Homo sapiens: one gene and its partners. The protein of the gene in region 1 purifies or fractionates together with the protein of each later gene. This does not show direct contact. Each region holds a gene or a part of one and is shown on either strand. Other genes may lie near its edges. The genes, in order: DEFB123, CACNA2D2, LRP1B and COL6A2.

The links.
Region 2: the proteins of DEFB123 (region 1) and CACNA2D2 purify together in Homo sapiens (affinity purification with mass spectrometry; one large-scale study listed by BioGRID and IntAct). This does not show direct contact.
Region 3: the proteins of DEFB123 (region 1) and LRP1B purify together in Homo sapiens (affinity purification with mass spectrometry; one large-scale study listed by BioGRID and IntAct). This does not show direct contact.
Region 4: the proteins of DEFB123 (region 1) and COL6A2 purify together in Homo sapiens (affinity purification with mass spectrometry; one large-scale study listed by BioGRID and IntAct). This does not show direct contact.

Annotation. Positions count from the first base shown.
Region 1 is NC_000020.11:31,438,892-31,443,518, forward strand, and holds the start of DEFB123 (beta-defensin 123 precursor), read left to right. Parts: upstream 1-1,740; 5' UTR 1,741-1,807; coding exon 1,808-1,865; intron 1,866-4,627. UniProt on the Homo sapiens protein: Has antibacterial activity.
Region 2 is NC_000003.12:50,364,708-50,367,952, forward strand, and holds part of CACNA2D2 (voltage-dependent calcium channel subunit alpha-2/delta-2 isoform b precursor), read right to left. Parts: exon of another isoform or gene 3,196-3,245; coding exon 3,105-3,195; exon of another isoform or gene 3,089-3,104; intron 2,998-3,088; coding exon 2,935-2,997; intron 2,815-2,934; exon of another isoform or gene 2,791-2,814; coding exon 2,687-2,790; intron 2,403-2,686; coding exon 2,304-2,402; intron 2,213-2,303; coding exon 2,124-2,212; intron 1,922-2,123; coding exon of another isoform or gene 1,919-1,921; coding exon 1,871-1,918; intron 1,632-1,870; coding exon 1,560-1,631; exon of another isoform or gene 1,457-1,559; coding exon 1,304-1,456; exon of another isoform or gene 1,156-1,303; coding exon 1,103-1,155; exon of another isoform or gene 982-1,102; coding exon 926-981; exon of another isoform or gene 776-925; coding exon 649-775; intron 478-648; coding exon 368-477; intron 270-367; coding exon of another isoform or gene 264-269; coding exon 181-263; intron 100-180; coding exon 1-99. UniProt on the Homo sapiens protein: The alpha-2/delta subunit of voltage-dependent calcium channels regulates calcium current density and activation/inactivation kinetics of the calcium channel.
Region 3 is NC_000002.12:140,353,444-140,357,427, reverse strand, and holds part of LRP1B (low-density lipoprotein receptor-related protein 1B precursor), read left to right. Parts: intron 1-951; coding exon 952-1,086; intron 1,087-3,984. UniProt on the Homo sapiens protein: Potential cell surface proteins that bind and internalize ligands in the process of receptor-mediated endocytosis.
Region 4 is NC_000021.9:46,128,685-46,133,405, reverse strand, and holds the end of COL6A2 (collagen alpha-2(VI) chain isoform 2C2 precursor), read right to left. Parts: intron 4,504-4,721; coding exon of another isoform or gene 4,478-4,503; exon of another isoform or gene 4,211-4,477; coding exon of another isoform or gene 3,915-4,210; exon of another isoform or gene 3,605-3,914; intron 1,453-3,604; coding exon 854-1,452; 3' UTR 558-853; downstream 1-557. UniProt on the Homo sapiens protein: Collagen VI acts as a cell-binding protein.

The DNA of each region.
Region 1 (4,627 bases):
CACACAGTGTACTTGGGAGTTGGGGTCAAGAGAAAAGACCTGTGATATAAGTGGTTCAGAGACTTGGGGGCTGATAAGGGCAGGCTAGAGAATCCTTATCTGAAAACCCAATTACCTTGCCCTGTTTTGGTGTTGAAAACCTGGATTGCTGCATTCTTTTACTTTCTGTGTCTTTTATATAGAAAACCATATAATATGATGGATATATTGATCCCTACTGCACATCTGCCCCAAATCCTTAATTGAAGAGATTGAGACCCAGAAAAAAAAAAAAAGTAATTCTTCCAAGGTCACATAGAAAGCTAGTAGCAGTGTCAGGACTAGTTACCCAATATTTTCAACTCTGCTGTCACTCTCAATACAAAAATCCTCCATATATCCTGGCATTTCAGGCAGTGGGAAAATCTCTTCTTTTAGGGAGAAAAGAATCCAACAGATACATTATTTCTCCAGGCCTGGGCAACAGAGCAAGACCCTGTATCCAAAACAACAACAAAAACAAAAAGATAAAAAATAGTTTTTAAAATTAAGAAAAAAAAAGAAATGAAATGAGCCTCCTTACCAAAAATGAACAGCACAGGAAAGGTGGACTTCCAGGCTTTCCACTGAGTCCCTTCCTAGCCAGTGTCTCTTCTTCTCTTCATTGTAAGGGTTTTAGAAAGAATTATTTACACTTGCTGACCTCACTGTTTCACTTACCTTTCAGTTTTCAACCCCATTGACTGTTTTCTGCCCCTACAGAAATGGCTTTCACTGTTGTTGTTGTTGTTGTTGTTTTTCCCTTGTAATCCCTCTGTATGCTATTATACCCTTGACATCTGTTTCAAGCAGGGTCCAGTCAGAGAAACAGTAACTACAGGATGCAGCTACCACCCGAGGGCTGAGGGAACTAAAGGAAAGAGATGCCTTTTCTTTTCTTTTCTGAGACAGAGTCTTGCTCTGTCGCCCAGTCGGGAGTGCAGTGGCGCGATCTCGGCTCACCACAGCCTCCCCAGGTTCAAGCGATTATCTTGCCTCAGCCTCCCAAGTAGCTGGGATTATAGGCATGCACCACCACACCTGGCTACTTTTTGTATTTGTAGTAGAGATGGGGTTTCACCATGTTGGCCAGGCTGGTCTCGAACTCCTGACCTCAAGTGATCCACCCACCTTGGCCTCCCAAACTGCTGGGATTACAGGCGTGAGCCACCGTGCCCGGCCAAGAATGAGTTTTCAAAACCCGAGTTCAGAAGAAGGATTCTGAGTGGTTGGTTCTCAGATCTCTGAGGAAGCGGAAGGATGACCCTAGGGGGAGGGCCACCGCATGTTAGAACCCAGCAGGGGGCTGTGACAGACAGGCTGGTGCTCGGAGCTTCATCTCTTTCTGCCGTTTTCCTCTCAGTTTTTGCTCTGGTTATGTCATATTTCTCATTTTCAACACCAACATGAGCCTTTGTACAGACATTCCTCCACCTGGAACCCCATTTCAGCTCATCTACCTGTTGCTTTGTATTTATTCTTCAAAACTCTGCCGTCTTCCCTGACCTTCCGGAGCCGGTGTTTGTGGCGCCTCCTGCTGGTCACTGGGTTCAGGCAGTTTGGAGCTGGGTGGAAGGAACGGGTAGTATATTAAGTCTTGGGCCCTGGACCTTGTTGGCTGTCCTCTCCCTGCTGACCTAAATGACAAAGGGAGGGGTGTCCAGTCAGAGTGTGAGGGCTGTACCCGTGGGCAGCTGAGGGAGTGCGAGCCACAGGCCAGGCACTCTCCTTCTCCCATTAGCTCAGCCGTGGCATCGGACTTGCAGCTTCATTTTGGGCTGCCTTAGCCATGAAGCTCCTTTTGCTGACTTTGACTGTGCTGCTGCTCTTATCCCAGCTGACTCCAGGTAACCTGAACCTCCTTAAGGAAGGGGCAGGGCTTAGAGACTAAGGCCTGGTCAGAGAATCCCAAGGGCTAGAAGGATGGGCTGCAGGTTGTCATCTAGCACCACGTATAGGAGGCAGGAGGCGCCTCACCAGCAGCAGGTGCCAGCTGATAGATGACAACTACAACATCCAGAGCTGCTCTCTCAGCGGCTCCATCCCTCCTCTTCCTGCCCAGCTCCAGGGAGCATGTGGGGGTGGCCTAGTGTGTGAGGAGGAGTGGGAGGGGTGAGCAAGAGAAGCAGGAAAGAGGAGAGGCAGGTATGGCCCTTTTGCAAAATAGTCCCCAGAATGAACGAAGCTTTGTGAAGATCACAGCTACCTTAATGGGAGAGAAAGCTCATTTGTACTTAGCTGTCTCTGTGCCAGACTCTGCGCTGGAAGCTAGGACCACGGAGATAAATGACATGGTGCCAGGGGAACTAACTGGAGGAGACAGTTAAATAGCATTTATAACCCAGGGTGACACGGCTGTGGCAGTGGGAAACCAGGGGGCTGGGTACACATGGTCCAGCCCAGGCTGAGGGAAAGGAGAGTCCTCCTGGAGGGATATCCTGAGTCCTAAAAAGTGAGTCGAAAATAGAAAAGGAAGGAGAGGGGAAAGCAGAAGGGTGTCCCAGGCAGAGAGGTCAGCCTATGCAAAGGTTGGATGCGGGAGAGAGCATGGGAGTGTCGGGGACCTGCATAACATGGAGGGGTGGGTTAGGAGAGAGGCGGGGGTAAAGCTGAGGAAGCATTCAAGCTCCAGGTCTCAGTGGGCCTCAAATGCCAGGTGAGGGACCCATGGGAAGGTTTAAACAGAGAAAGACCCTGGTCAGACCTACCACCCACCAATTCCAGCATGAGCCACCTATCCCTTCCTGCTCATCTGGCAGAAGTTTCCACCCACCCTAAGGCTGTCGGCTAACCTTTCTACAGAGTCAGAAACGTGTGAATTTCCTAAACAAGCTGACCTCCGTCCTTGTGTCTTCCTGAGGCCCTAAAACACCACTCACCTGGAGTAGGGAGGAAAGCCCAGACCCCGGGTTAAAACCTGCCCCATCATTTTCTGACTCTGTGAGCCCCAACAAGAAGCTCAGCTGCTCAGAGTATCAATTTCCTCATTTCTCAAACTGCAATAACATCAAGTGTGTAATAATATCAGGTTGAGGGAACAACATTGAACACACTGAAATTTTGGTCTGCAAAAGAAATATGGCTTCTCTATTTTCTCTAACTCACCAAACTTTCCCAGGAACTTCCATCCTGACTGTGGGAGTTAGTGGTGGGAGGAGCAGGACTACAGAGATAAATGACATGGCACCAGGGGAGCAAACTAGGGGAGACAGTTAAATAGCACTTACAACCCAGGGTGACAAGGCACATAGGGGCTGGGCCTGAACTCAGCAGTTCAATATTTGTCTTTTCTGTTTTAAAATGATTTCTAAGCTAATTCAATCTCTTTTGAATAAGTGTTGAGTCTTTCAGCATGTCTCTTTCTTCCATCACCCTTTCTCTTTCCTGGGATAGTATCTGGTTACAGGGAAAAGTAACTTGATATGTCATCAAATAATTAATTGCTTCATTCAGTAAATACAGTTGAATGGATTTCTTGTTCCAAGCACTGTGATGGGTGCTAGAGGTAGAACTGGGAACAAAACAAGATAAGCAAAATCTCTGTCCTCTTGGAGCTTACCTTCTACTGGAGGACCCAAAGAATTTGAAAAATAAATGAAACATATGGTATGTCAGATAATGAGTACAGTGAGCAGAATAGGCAGGAAAGGAAATAGTGAACACCAGGGGAAGGGGAAGGTCATTTGCTTTTTTTTTTTTTTTTTTTTTGGAGACAGGGTCTTGCTCTGTCACCCAGGCTGGAGTGCTGGAGTGTAGAGGCACGATCTTAGCTCACTGCAACCTCCACCTCCCGGATTCAAGCAGTTTTCATGCCTCAGCCTCCTAAGTAACTGGGATTACAGGCGCCTGCAACCACGCCTGGCAAATTTTTGTATTTTTAGTAGGATACGGTTTGGCCATGTTGCCCAGGCTGGTCTTGAATCCCTGACCTCAAGCAATCTGCTTGCCTCAGCCTCCCAAAGTGCTGGGATTACAGGCTTGAGCCACCATGCCCGGTCTTTGCCATTTTTAAGGGGTTGTTCATGGAATGTCTCACTGTGACCTGAGGGAACAACCGGTGTGAGCATGTGGCTATGGAGGGAAGGAAATTCAAGCTGGGGAAAACAGCAAGTGCAAGGGTCCTGGGATAGGAACATAAGGAGGTGGGGTCAGGTCCTGTGCTGGACCCTTACTGACTTCTGGGATCACGACCCTCGTTGGATGTGGTTAGTAGCGTCCTGCTAGCACTTACTACTGGATTTCATGACTGATGAAATCTCTCAGCCCTTTTGGGGTCCCCACTGACTCGACCCTTCATCTCAGCCAGATCTTCCATCTGGTCCCCAAGTTAAGGCTGTTCACACCCTCCCTTACTGCCTTCTGCACTAGGGGTGTACTCTTGGCAGGTCCCTCACTGGTTTTCCTATCTCAGCCAGAGACAAGGGAACCTGGGGACCTTCTGGGTCTATTTTATTCAACAGAGAGCTGACAGTGATGCTCAGCCACTTCCCTTAGCCATTTCTAATCCCCCTTCAGGTAGCACCATGCAGTGCTATATCCATGCTAAAGATAAGAATTTCTCTGAAGAGCTACCAGTTTCCCTGAGCTATGCTCTAAGAGGCAGAGAGTA
Region 2 (3,245 bases), on another chromosome or scaffold:
CCGGGGCGGCAGGCCCAGGAGGAGCAGCAGTTGCAGGGAGACCAGGACGCCCAGCGACGGCGGGAAGGAGGCCCCGCGGCCACAGTCTGAGGTATCTTCCTGCGGGGAGAGACAAGGAGCTGGTCGGCCTGGGCGGGCGCAAGGCCGCGGGATTTCGGGTCCACCGCCCCCTCTCCTCACTGTCGCGTTGTAGTCGAAGCAGATGTGCGGGCCTCTCCGGTATCGCGGTCTCTGCACTAGCTCACACTGCTCCGGGCCGTCCGCTGGGCATGGGTGGGGAGTCAAGGAGGCGGACGGCGGCGGCGGCACGGAGGGGGCGCGCGGGGCAGAGGGGGAGCGGGCGGCGGGGAGGGCGGGGGCAGGATACAGTGCGTCTCCTTCTGCAGCAGCCGGCCAGCCTCGCACTGGCTGCACAGCGGCTTCTCGGCCACCACAAAGAGAAGATTGGTGTTGGTCAGTCTCTGCGCGTGGAACAGCCTGCGGGCAGCCCGGAAAGGCGGGGCGTTGAGTTTGCCCCGCCCTGACCCACCCCCATCCTGCGGCCCCGCCCCCGGCCGCTCGGAGGCCCCGCCCCTTCCATCCTCCCGAGCGTCTCGCCCCGCTCACAGGTTCCGCCCTTGGCCTCTGGTCCCGCCCCACTGCCAGCACCTGGAGCAGTTTCCGCAGTCGATGATGGCGTTGTAGGAGGCGTTTACCGAGCCGAAGTAGTACTGGGTCTGTTTCATGACGCAGCTGCTCTCGCGCGTCTCGGGGCTCCCCTCGGCCTCCGCGGGGTCTGCGAGGGCCCAGAGCGCCTCAGCTCCGCCCACAGACCCTGGCAAGGTCTCCGGCCTCCCTCAGTCGTAGACCCCACCCTCCCCATGGAGTCGTCTTAGCTCAGATTGGGGACCCGGACTTGAGGAGGCGCCTCCAAAGCCCTACCTACCTGCTTGGAACCAGCTGTGGTAGATGAGGCCGTAGAGAAGCTGCTGGAACAGGGACCTGCAGCGCACGGGGAGCCGAGTGCAGGTGGTCAGCAGAGGACGATGCCATGCCCTACTTCTCTTCTGAGCCCTCCCGGCCAGGGAGCACCTTCTCTACCCACCTCCCGCTCAGGACTCACCAGGCGGCAGCAGAGGTCCACCAGGCCAGGTTAAGGAAATCTGCAACGGTGGGCTGCAGTGGAGAGAGGGGCGTGGACTGCCACTGCTGCCCCTCGCCCTAGGTCACCCCCAGCTTTATCAAATGTCAGAGGTAGGGGGTCATCTGTGGGCAGGTCTCCCAGTCCCCCCCATCTCCAGTCCAGGCATCTCTGGGGACTCACCACAAAGACACCCCGGGGTGCAGCACCCAGGTTGCCAGGGGGCTGAGGGGCACAGGCTGCCTGATAGTCATAGGACTCCTTGCGGGTGTAGAAGGAGTTATTGTAGAGTGCCAGCATCAGGTTGGCATCCACCTCACTGAAGAACCTGCCCACCTGAGGATGTCAGGAGAAAGCCATGGTCACAGGGCTGGCAGTGCTACACCCCTAGAAGGCTCAAATCCCTACTCTCTTCTTTCACTCTCTTCCTGATCCTCACCTGGTCCCACTGATGGTTCTGGTTTGACAGCACCAGGAATCCTCCATCATCAATGAGGACACAGAGTAAGTCCTAGGAGGAAGGGAATGGGGAGGAAAATGGAGAGGGGCTGGGCCCCGGACCTTCCACCGCAGGCAGTCCAGTGGTTCAGAGTTGGGGGGCATCACTCCCCCAGTCCTGGGAAGGCTGTGAAGTCAGGGTGGGGATGTTGAGACCCACAGGCCAAGGGATGTGCTGGGAGTCGCGGCTGGGACTAGGAAGTCTGGAAGTGGGGTAAGCTAGGGTCCAGGGTAGGTTCAGGGCACACACACCTCATTGTTAACCTCGCAGTCCATCTCACAGTGGCTGTTGGGGCCGCACTGCTGGGCAGAGAGTGAGGACCGTAAGCCACCCACCAGTTTTCCTCCCTCCCATCACCTTTCATACATCCGGTTCCCCAGGCCATCTGCAGCTGGCCCTGCCTCCATGTAGGTGTTGGAGCCACTGAGTGGAGGGTTGGTGGGGGTTCCAGGGGACTCCAGGAAGGGCACTGCTGGGTTACTGCCCCCGCCCCTGCCCAAATACCTTCTGAGGCTGGTCTTGGTGGGTACGGTTGCTGGCTAGCACCTTGAACTTCTCAGCCCAAGCCTCTAGGTCCAGCTTGACGCCCACCACTTTGGGGGAGAGCAAGGGACCATCAGTGCTACCTGCCCAGGCAGTACCCTGTCCATTGCCTGTTTCCCCACCTCTGTCCCAAACATTCACCTGCTGGCCTCAGTGTGCGCCTGCCTAGGCTGAGCTCCACAGCTGTGCTGACGAGGATGCCCACAGTGTCATTCTCCAGCTCCAGCGGCCTTAACAGGGCTGGGGGTTGGGTGGGGAAGTCAGGAGTGGGGTCTGGCGGCCACACTGACCACTCTATGCTGGGTCCTACAAACCCAGCAGTCCAATCCCGGGATGACTCCAGCCCAAGCACCCAGCACTCAGGACAGTGTTTGGCACAGTCTATCCCTCTTTTCACGTCTGCCCTGGCCTCAGCCAGCCTTGTGTTGGAGAGGGGCCTCAGACAGCAGAGCCCAGTTCTGGCTGAGCAGACAGGGAAGCTGAGGCTCCCTGCCTGCTGCTGGGCACACTGCGGGGACACTCACCATCCTGGTGTGGGGGCTTGAAGACATAACCGTGGTTATCCAGGCTGCGGCGGTAGAAGCTGGCATTGAAGGGCTCAGGGTTCTCTGTCCAGTCCTCAGCTGCCCTGGAGCACCCAAGAGGCAGACTGGTAGGTAAGGGGTGGCTTGTCGGGGACAGTGGTCTCCACAGATGCAAGGAGGCCTCTGGGCAGAACAGATGCAGGTTCCCTGGCAGGGGCAGGGTTTGGGTAGTGGGATAGGTCACTTACTTGTTGGGGAAGACTCGGGTGATGCCACCGTCTGTGGCAGCGAACACGGCCAGTAGGCTGTACCTGGGGGTAGCAGGGGGGTGGGGTCACAGGCCTGCCTTCTGCTGGGCAGGTCCAGGGCCTCTGGGCCCATCCTAGCCTTCTGCCCCCACAGGCTGGGTGATGCCTACGTGTTGAGATCCTGGTCCCTCCACACACGCTCTACCAGCTGCTGCGTGATGCCCGTGTCCAAGATCAGGTTGTGCAGAAGGAAGTTGTTGCCTGGAACAGGAGGGGAGGGGTGGGGGTGGGGGCATCTTCTTGCAGCTCCT
Region 3 (3,984 bases), on another chromosome or scaffold:
TGCTTACAAAAGTCACACAATATTTCCTACTTTTACATCTTTTTTTTTTAATTTATGCATCTAAAACTTTCCTCATTTAGGGATGAAGCAATACCCACCAGGATATGGCTGCATGTGTCTAAACCATGGTATCATTCCACTGACCTATTTTAACTAATTGCAAAATATTCAAGTCAGTGGGGTTACAACGATAATAATTAAAGTTCTCACATTTCTCAAAAATTTGATTTAAGTAACTTAGAGATGATATGATGTCTCTATAATAATGTCCCTCTCATTTATTTAAAAGAGAAGGCCTTCTAAAATGTTTTCCTGAATGGGAGATAAAGTAATAAAATTGCAACTGCTATCCTGGAAATTACAAGTAACTTTTTGTCTGTCCTAAAATGTTGCAGCTTATGACCAACCATTATGAGCACATTACACACTCAAATGTTACTCTTCATATGTATGTCCAGCATAAAAAAATGAAATTTAAACTGCTGATTTAGACAACTTGCTTGAGTAACTTAGCAGTACCCTTGATTGAGTTTACAAATATTAAGCTTAGGTTAGCAATAAATGCCTAAATTTCTAGGTAGCTTATAGGAAATGCTTTGGCTCTCAGAGAAGGATGTAGTACTCATATATCGTACTATAATAAAGATAGCCTGTCATTAGAATCATTGACTCCTGACTTATTTTTAAAAAGTGTTACAGCTTAACAGCAGCTCTAAATATCAACTGTTAGCAGCTTGGTCTAATCTGTATTTAATGTTAATGAGTTTAGTTTTTATACTTCTATACATTTATAAGACATGGGGGCTTATATGGAGAGAAGACCGTAACCTTGTACATTCAAAAAGAGTTATCTGTGGAATAATAAATACCATTTCAAACATTTTTTAAAAGTTAACTCCCCACTTCAGGAATTAGAATTATATTAGTTTTGATCATATTTTTAAATCCCAGCTCCTACTGAATATACCTGTGAAGATAATGTGAATCCATGTGGAGATGATGCATATTGTAATCAAATAAAAACATCTGTTTTCTGTCGCTGTAAGCCTGGATTTCAGAGAAACATGAAAAACAGACAATGTGAAGGTAGAGTACTTTTCTTCAACAGTTTGCTCATAAATCTTTGGGTTATGAAGATTCCCAAGACTTCTAAATTGTGAGATCACAGGGGATTGACTTTCATCAAAATGGTGTGTATCTACGGGATACCATTTCACTTATGAGAATGAAAGTCTCTGGGGTCAAGAGCTTGTTTGTGGAGCTAAGCTAACCACGACAGAGGCTACAAAGCTTTTTCTATAGCAAATTCAGAGCTGCAGGAATTTCAATTCTATTGCTACAATACTGTTTTGAAATGCAAATAACGAAATTCCTGGTTCAGGAACTATTGGAGAATTAGTCTTGCTTCATGAAAAAATATGTTTATGATGACCCATTTCTCTTGAGTGTGGAATTTGCAATACTGGAATAGGTAAATCACATTTAGAGAGTCATGGGCTTTTGTCCTAAAACCATGTTTTAAATAGATCATAATGTATCTTTAAAAATTCAAAGTCAGGATCTACATAAATCTGTCAACTTACTTGAGATCATTTAAAAATTGAGCATGTAGGATAGCCAAAATCTTATAGTAAGTAAGTAAATATAATTACATCAGTGTTCTAACTATAGAACCATGAAATACAGACCCATATGCACTTTCTGCAAGTTTCTCCAATAAAACTGCTATTTGTATTCATATTCATATTAATGTAAGTACAGCCAAACCTAAAATAACTAAGTCTGGCTTATCCAGGCTAAATTCAAGTCTTTAAGTGCTTTTACCTACCAGCTTGCTTTTGTTATGTCTCTTTGTGATATTTTGAGGTTAAGAAAAATGATTCTACTTCGTGTTAATCAAAATGGAATTATTTAAATGAATTGATTCTACTCACCCAAAAGGGGAAAAAGTGTAGTCACGTCATGTTTATCTACATTTTGAGTTAAATGTGTATTTGGATTATTCGTGACATTTGATTGTTCCATTACTATGAGACTGAAAGATGACAACCTAGGTTTTCTGTGTTTTAGTTAAAAAATGAATTATCTTTCAAACTATGGTATTTATTTTTCCCAGGCTCTTTCTATCAATTACATATAAACACACACACACACAATTCTTTCAATATTTTAATTTCAATAACATTTATTTTCTAATATTTGTCAGTGGGTTTTTTCTGTATATATGTACTAAATTTAGAAATTATATTATTAAAGTTTTCTTAATTTTTAATTACATTCCACAGCAAATATAACCTGCACACTACATTCTTTATTTTAAATTGCTATGAATCCACTTTTTTGTATTATTTTGTAGGACAGACGAGTAACTTCTGAACTCTAATAAAATGTTCATCTATTTTTAATAAATAAAGTTTTGATTTTAAGGAAAATAGTTCTATTTCAGTGTCAAAGAAGGGTAAGACATAATTGGATTCTATAATCCAAAAATTTAAATTTGTTTGTGCCCTTCACTTATGTATCTGAAAAAATGCATAAGAAATTGCTATTTGATGTTAAAGCCCAAACACTTCAATTAGAATATCTAAAGGGAAAAAAGTAAAGAGGAATGGTGGAAGAAAATTAGAAGGGGATTAACAGTTGCTGAGTGCCAGGTACTGTTTTGGGTACTAGGCATGTGTGGAATTCCTCCATCCCCTTCAAAAGCTCATGATCCAGGCTTTCTAGAGATGAGGCGAAAATGATGGTTCAGGCCAGTATAATGACAAGTGAGGAAGTTGAGGTTGTATGAAATCATGCAGAATACTGCTTATTTGGATTCTGTACCAAAGGGAAACCATAGTGACAAATAACTGCCGGTTCAAAGTTACAGGGGCTGAACAAATCAGAAATATTTGTTGTAATCGTGATGGTTAAGTACTGACAAGATGCATTCTACTTCATTCCTGTAAAATATTTATTAAAAACAACGAAATACACTTTTCTGCATCTCTTTACTCTACATTTCAATCAAATAGCAATGTGTGGTCATGAAAATGCTTATGTGTTCTTAGGCAAAGTATCACAGTAAAGTCAACAAAATCAGAAAACCTGAGTTTAAGCCTTGACGTTGTGATTTACAAGTGTCTCTACCTCTGAGCCCTTAGAACATTGTTTGTGTGCTACGCAAAAGATAGTTATTCTTACTGTGCTGATTCTTAAGTTCTCTAATTCAAGGGAAGGATTTATCTCACAGATTTATTAGGTAATTAGGAGATTATAAGTGATAAAATGAGGCAGGGGAAATATGCTGGCTAAACACAAAAGTAGAGGAGGAAAAGAGAGGAAAATTAGATAATTCCCTAGAATCACCTGGCCTCAATCCTGGCTCTTCATAAGCCCTTAAAATTAGAGTCATGTGCCAAGCTACATGACTCTGATTAAATCACATGAATACTGCCTGTGATTTATTTATTTATGCTAGTGATTTAGAGGTATTTATTCATATATAGGCATGCAGATTTTGCTTGCTTAATTCACATCACATAACCTCAATACAGCCCTTCTTGTTACGTAGTCACTTCATATATATGAGTCCAGAAGTGTGTTAGAGATGTGCCCAAATCTTTGTTCTCTGCCAGTCATTGTGCAAAATCTGGCAATAAAAAAGGAATGTATCATAATTTATGTCCTCAAGGGAATATGAATATGTAACCACATTCCTGAAATATAAGCAACAGTGTAAGAGAGAAACACCAGGAGAGCAAAAACTGGAGAAACTAAGGATGAATCATCACTCCCATATATGGTTGGAGACCAAGGAAGGCTTTATTTCAGGTGGATCTTGAAAGATGAGTAGAAATTCTGTATGGAAAAGTGGGCAAGGGCATTACGGGATGAAAGAATAGCCCATGATACCTTCGAAGGCATGGAGGTAGGTCATCAGAAACAGCTTAAAAGAAAACCTCAAGACAGGTCTATTTGCGTGAATGGAAATCTATACAA
Region 4 (4,721 bases), on another chromosome or scaffold:
CTCTAGTCCTCCTCTAGCCCTCCAGAGGAAGCATGGCCCGGCTGATGCCTCCAGGCCTGTGGCCGATACTGGTAGTTGTTCAAGCTGTGTCTGTGGTGCCCTGTGATGGCCACCAAGCCCACTCCTGTCAGGTCAGCACCTGCCTGTGGAGCCTCTGGTTCACTGTGGGGCTCCTGAGCTGAGCCTGAAGGACCCTGGGGTCTGAACAGCAAAAACTCACTGAGATCTCCACACAGAACACAACAGGCTCAGCACCTGCTGTCTCCCCGTCTAGTGTTAATCATGCGTCCACCCACAGAAGACCCTCAGCCATGGTGACACTTCTTAGAGCACTTTGGGCCTGGCTGGGGCTGGAGGGAGAGTTTGCTGATCAAGGCTGTGGGGTCTGCACAGGCGGGGTCAGCCAGCACCTGCAGTTGATGTCCTAGGAGGTCAGGGCTGGGCCCGGGGGAGCCATTGACCCTGGTGGGCGAGCGACAGCTGCAGTGTTTCCCTCCTGGCCACAAGACACCTTTGAGGTCTCTCCTGCGCACAGAAGCTCGCAAGCAGGCACGCAATGGGTTCAAAGCCTTTATTGGGTCAGGGCTTGCTCCAGAGCTCAGGGGCCAGGTAGGTCAGGAGCCTTGGGATGGCTGCAGGGGGAGGGAGGCCGGGCAGCCTGCGGAGGGCCTGGGGAGACCTGGGGCTGGGCGGGGGCCGGGGCTACGGGGACCCCGTGGGAGGAGCTGGAGAGGTGCAGGCCCAGGGCGTCGTCCGAGTGAGCAGCGGTGCTGGCCGTGTGGGACCCGGGCCCGCTTAGCACCATGGACGGGGTGGGCTCACGACCCTCGACTGCGGGGCCCGGGCGGCGGCGCTAGCAGATCCAGCGGATGAAGCGGTCGAAGAAGCCGGGTTGCGCCAGGCTGTCATAGTCCTTCTCGTGGAACACGGCGGCGCGGTCACCCAGGCTGAGCGTGGTGAGCACGTCCATGTCCACGTCGCTGCCCAAGGCCAGCACGGTGGGTACCACGTTCTGCTTGCGCATGGAGTGCGCCGACTCGTGCAGACTGTCGTTGCCCGTGACGCCGTCCGTGAGGAACACGAAGGACAGCTCTGCGTGCCTCCGGGCCCCGCCACGCGGGCTGCGCACGATGGCATTGATGGCGTGCACCACGCCTGCGCCCACGTGCGAGAAGGAGTTCAGGTATTGTGTGGTCTCCAGCGCCTCGTGGATGGCCGTGAGGTTGTGGCTCAGCGGGAAGGCCACCTGCTGCTCGCCGGGGCCACCAAACTGCAGCAGCGCCACGCGTGCGTTGAGAGGGTCGTCGTCCCTCCGGGCCAGCGTCAGCCGCCGCGCCACCTGCTCCACGAAGCGCCGGGCCTTGTGGAAGTTCTGCTCACCCAGCCGCTCGGAGCCGTCCAGCAGGAAGACGATGTCCACGGGCCGCTGCGTGCACTGTGCCACGGACAGCTCTGTGGGGAGACGCAGGTGCGGGCTGGGCGGAGGGGAGGTGGGCAGGACCGGGCAGGTGCCAGCCCCGCACCTGTGCCCTTCCATTCGCACCCTGCCTGCAACCTCACAGACCACTGGGCTCTGCGGGGGCGTTTCTGCAGGGCAGCCCTGGGTGTGGGTCCTTAGCCCAAGACACTTTCAGGCGGCACTGCTGGGAGCCGCCATCTCCTCTGCTGGTGCTCCCAGGCCTGAGACCCTGACACAGGCCCCAGGCCCTGTCCACCTGCTGAGCACCATCCCTGCACAGGCTGCCCTCCTGGGAGGGAAGGGGCCCAAAGCATCCTTTCATGGCTCAAGAATTTGCTGCCCACAAAAGGGCCACTGTCTGTGTAGTGTGGGAGGTACTTAAGGAGGACCCTGGCTCTGACACCCCCAGCCTGACCCCTCAATCGCTGGGTCCCAGAGCTGCTCAGAACACCTAGAGCTGGCTGGGCCACGTCCCTCCCGGAAAGACCAGGAGCCCCTGACTCTTCTGATTGGCCATGGTGGGGAGCAGTGGGCACAGGGGCAGCCAGACCTTCTGTGGCAGCCCAGGTGGGTTCTGCCCTATGACTCTGTTACCAAGTGGGGCCCCCACCTGCCTGGGTGGTCACCAGCCCTGGGCATCGGGGACAGCTTGGGGGCCTGGCCATAGCCACAACCCAGGCCAGGCTGCCTACCACACGTGTGGGTGTCACGTGGGGCCAGAGACCACAGGACAGGACACGGACAGTCCTTGCGTGGACCTGGCCCTGTGGCCTCACCAAGACCTCAGCTCCTGGGATGGGGGAGGGGAGGGACAGAGCCAGTTTCCCCAAGGGTGTCTGCTTCTCAGCCCAACCCCTGGACGTCGTCACAGCTGGTACATGGACCCCCAGGAATGCACACAGAGGACCCTGACCCGAAACTCGGTTTCTGGGGGCCCTGGAGGTGCAACGGTCCAGCCCCGCAGGCAGTGAGCAAAGCTCTGAACACAGCAGGGTGACCTCACGCTGCACCGCAGCCTTCACAGAACGCTTGAGACATGGACGCCGTCTGAGCACGCACGAGCTGGCAGATGGGGTTCCCTCAGTGAGCTTATGAGTGACGCAGCTCATTCAGTGAAAGGAAGGGCAGCCTCCCTGTTAAGGCCACACCTAGGAACCGGCTTAAATGTCCAGAAACTCCTCAGGTACCGCTGGGCTTCCCAAACCCCCTCAAAACTAATAACATTTTCACTGCTGTCACCAAACATATGGAGACAGACATGCAAGGGGCAGCTGGTTTTGGGGGTCTCTGTCCATTCATCAGTGTCTGTGGGGCCTGGAGGAGACGGGGAAGCTGTGGGGGCCGGCCAGGCACAGGGAGGCTGAGGCTGTTGGGATGTCTGTGGACTCTGCTCTCCTCCTCCTGTGGAGGATCCTTCATCCCCACAGTGGGAAGACCAGCCTGGCCTGCCCTGTGCAGTGGGTGTGGGGACGAGAACCTGGCCCTGAGAAATGGTCACAGCCGTGCCCGGCAGGAGCCCAGCCTGGATGAGGGCTCCTGCAGTCAGAACGTCGGGGTCAGCTCGCCGTGGGGGCCGCTCCCTTTGGATGGTGATCCCTGCCGCTCCCCAACATTGTGGACCCTGGGATTCTCTGCTCAGTCCTCTGAGGACCGCAGAGGTTGTGCCTGGTGGATGCTCCCCCGACTGTGCTTTTGGAGACCCAGAGGTTGGGCTGGAAGGGTGCAGACACCCCGGGATCAGGGCTGCTGGCAGGCAGCTGTGGCCATTCGCCCTACTGTGCATGACACCAGCCCAGATACGTCATGGTGCCAGGACTGCCAGCTTCCCCCAGGACTATCTGCTGCCCAACCGGAAGCCTTCACCTGCCACCAGGTGGGCCGTGAGCGCCCACGAGTCACCATGCACGGGATTAGTGCCCACACCCAGCGAGGCTCACCAGCCTCTGGGGCCTGTTTCCGAGGCTCCGCTGGAACCTGGTGCTGGAACATCCTCCAGCACCTGGGCAGCACCCTCCCTCAGCCCCATCCCAGACGCACGGCAGCCCAGCTGGGCCGCTAAGTAAGGGCCTCCAAAGACTTCCACACCCAAACCCTGGAGCCTGTGAGGGTGACCTGATGCAGCAAAGAAGGACTCTGCAGACGGGAGTGAGTTAAGGGTCTTGCGAGGTCATTCTGGACTTGGGGTGGGCCTTAAATTCAATGACCAGGGTTCTTATAAAGAGAGCGGCCACAGGAAGACGGAGGAGAGACTGGAAGATGCAGCCGCAGCAAGGGACACGGTGGCCACCAGCATGGGAAGAGGCTGGGAGCTGCCCCAGAGCCCCTGGAAGGACTGTAGCCCCGCTGACCCCGATTCCAGATCTCTGGCCTCCACTGAGAGCCAGCCTGTCGGGGGCAGCCCTGGGAAGCTAGTGTGGCAGGGAGGGCCCAGCCCGGCTGGGCGGGTGCCCGGGCTTTAGCAGAGGGCCAGCGCGGTCTCGGGGTCCCCCACGATGTCCCTGTGCACCAGCTTAAAGGTGTCAATGAACAGCTCCATCCAGTCCTGCCGCTCTACCCCGGTGGCGAACTTGGCCCGCTCGGCGGTGTAGACCAGCACGGCCACCAGCTGGGAGTAGGCGGCCGGGTCCTGCGTGAGCTCCGTGGCGTTTAGCAACTGTTGGATCAGGGGAATGGTCCTGGGGAAGGTGGCGTCCGGCCCCTCTTCCGTGCGGAGGAAGGTGACCGGGGGCTCGCCGCCAGGCCACGGTGCATCTGCAAGGGAGCGTCCAGAGAAGACTGTAAGGCCTGCGGTGGGCGTCGGCCTAGAGCTCCTCCTCGGGCAGCCGCTCAGCGAGGCCAGAGTGAAGAGCGGCATTTGGGCTGGCGAGTCGGTAGAGGAAATGCAGGTGGAGCGGGTGTGTGGCTCGGCCTTGGCAGGAGGCGTGGGGGCAGTGAGCACAGGGACAGGAAGCTGGCAGGGAGCTAGGAGACCCGCACGGTGGCACCTTTGGGGGACACCACGGACCCCGAGAAAACCTTTCAGCACAAAACAGCTCCGTCCAAACCTGTGCCGGAGACAGGCCAAACTCCAGTAGGGCTTCCAGTGCCGCAGGCCCGTCGCCAGGAAGACCCCAGCCACCCCTCAAGAGCCCGCCTGAGAAAGCTTGCGGTGGTAAACCCTTCCTCAGCCTCTCTGGGATGTGAGTCCTCTACACCCAGAACTGTCTTCCCCTGAGCAGACCTGGCCTCTGCAACGTCTCTGCCTTTTCTTTCCACCGACTGG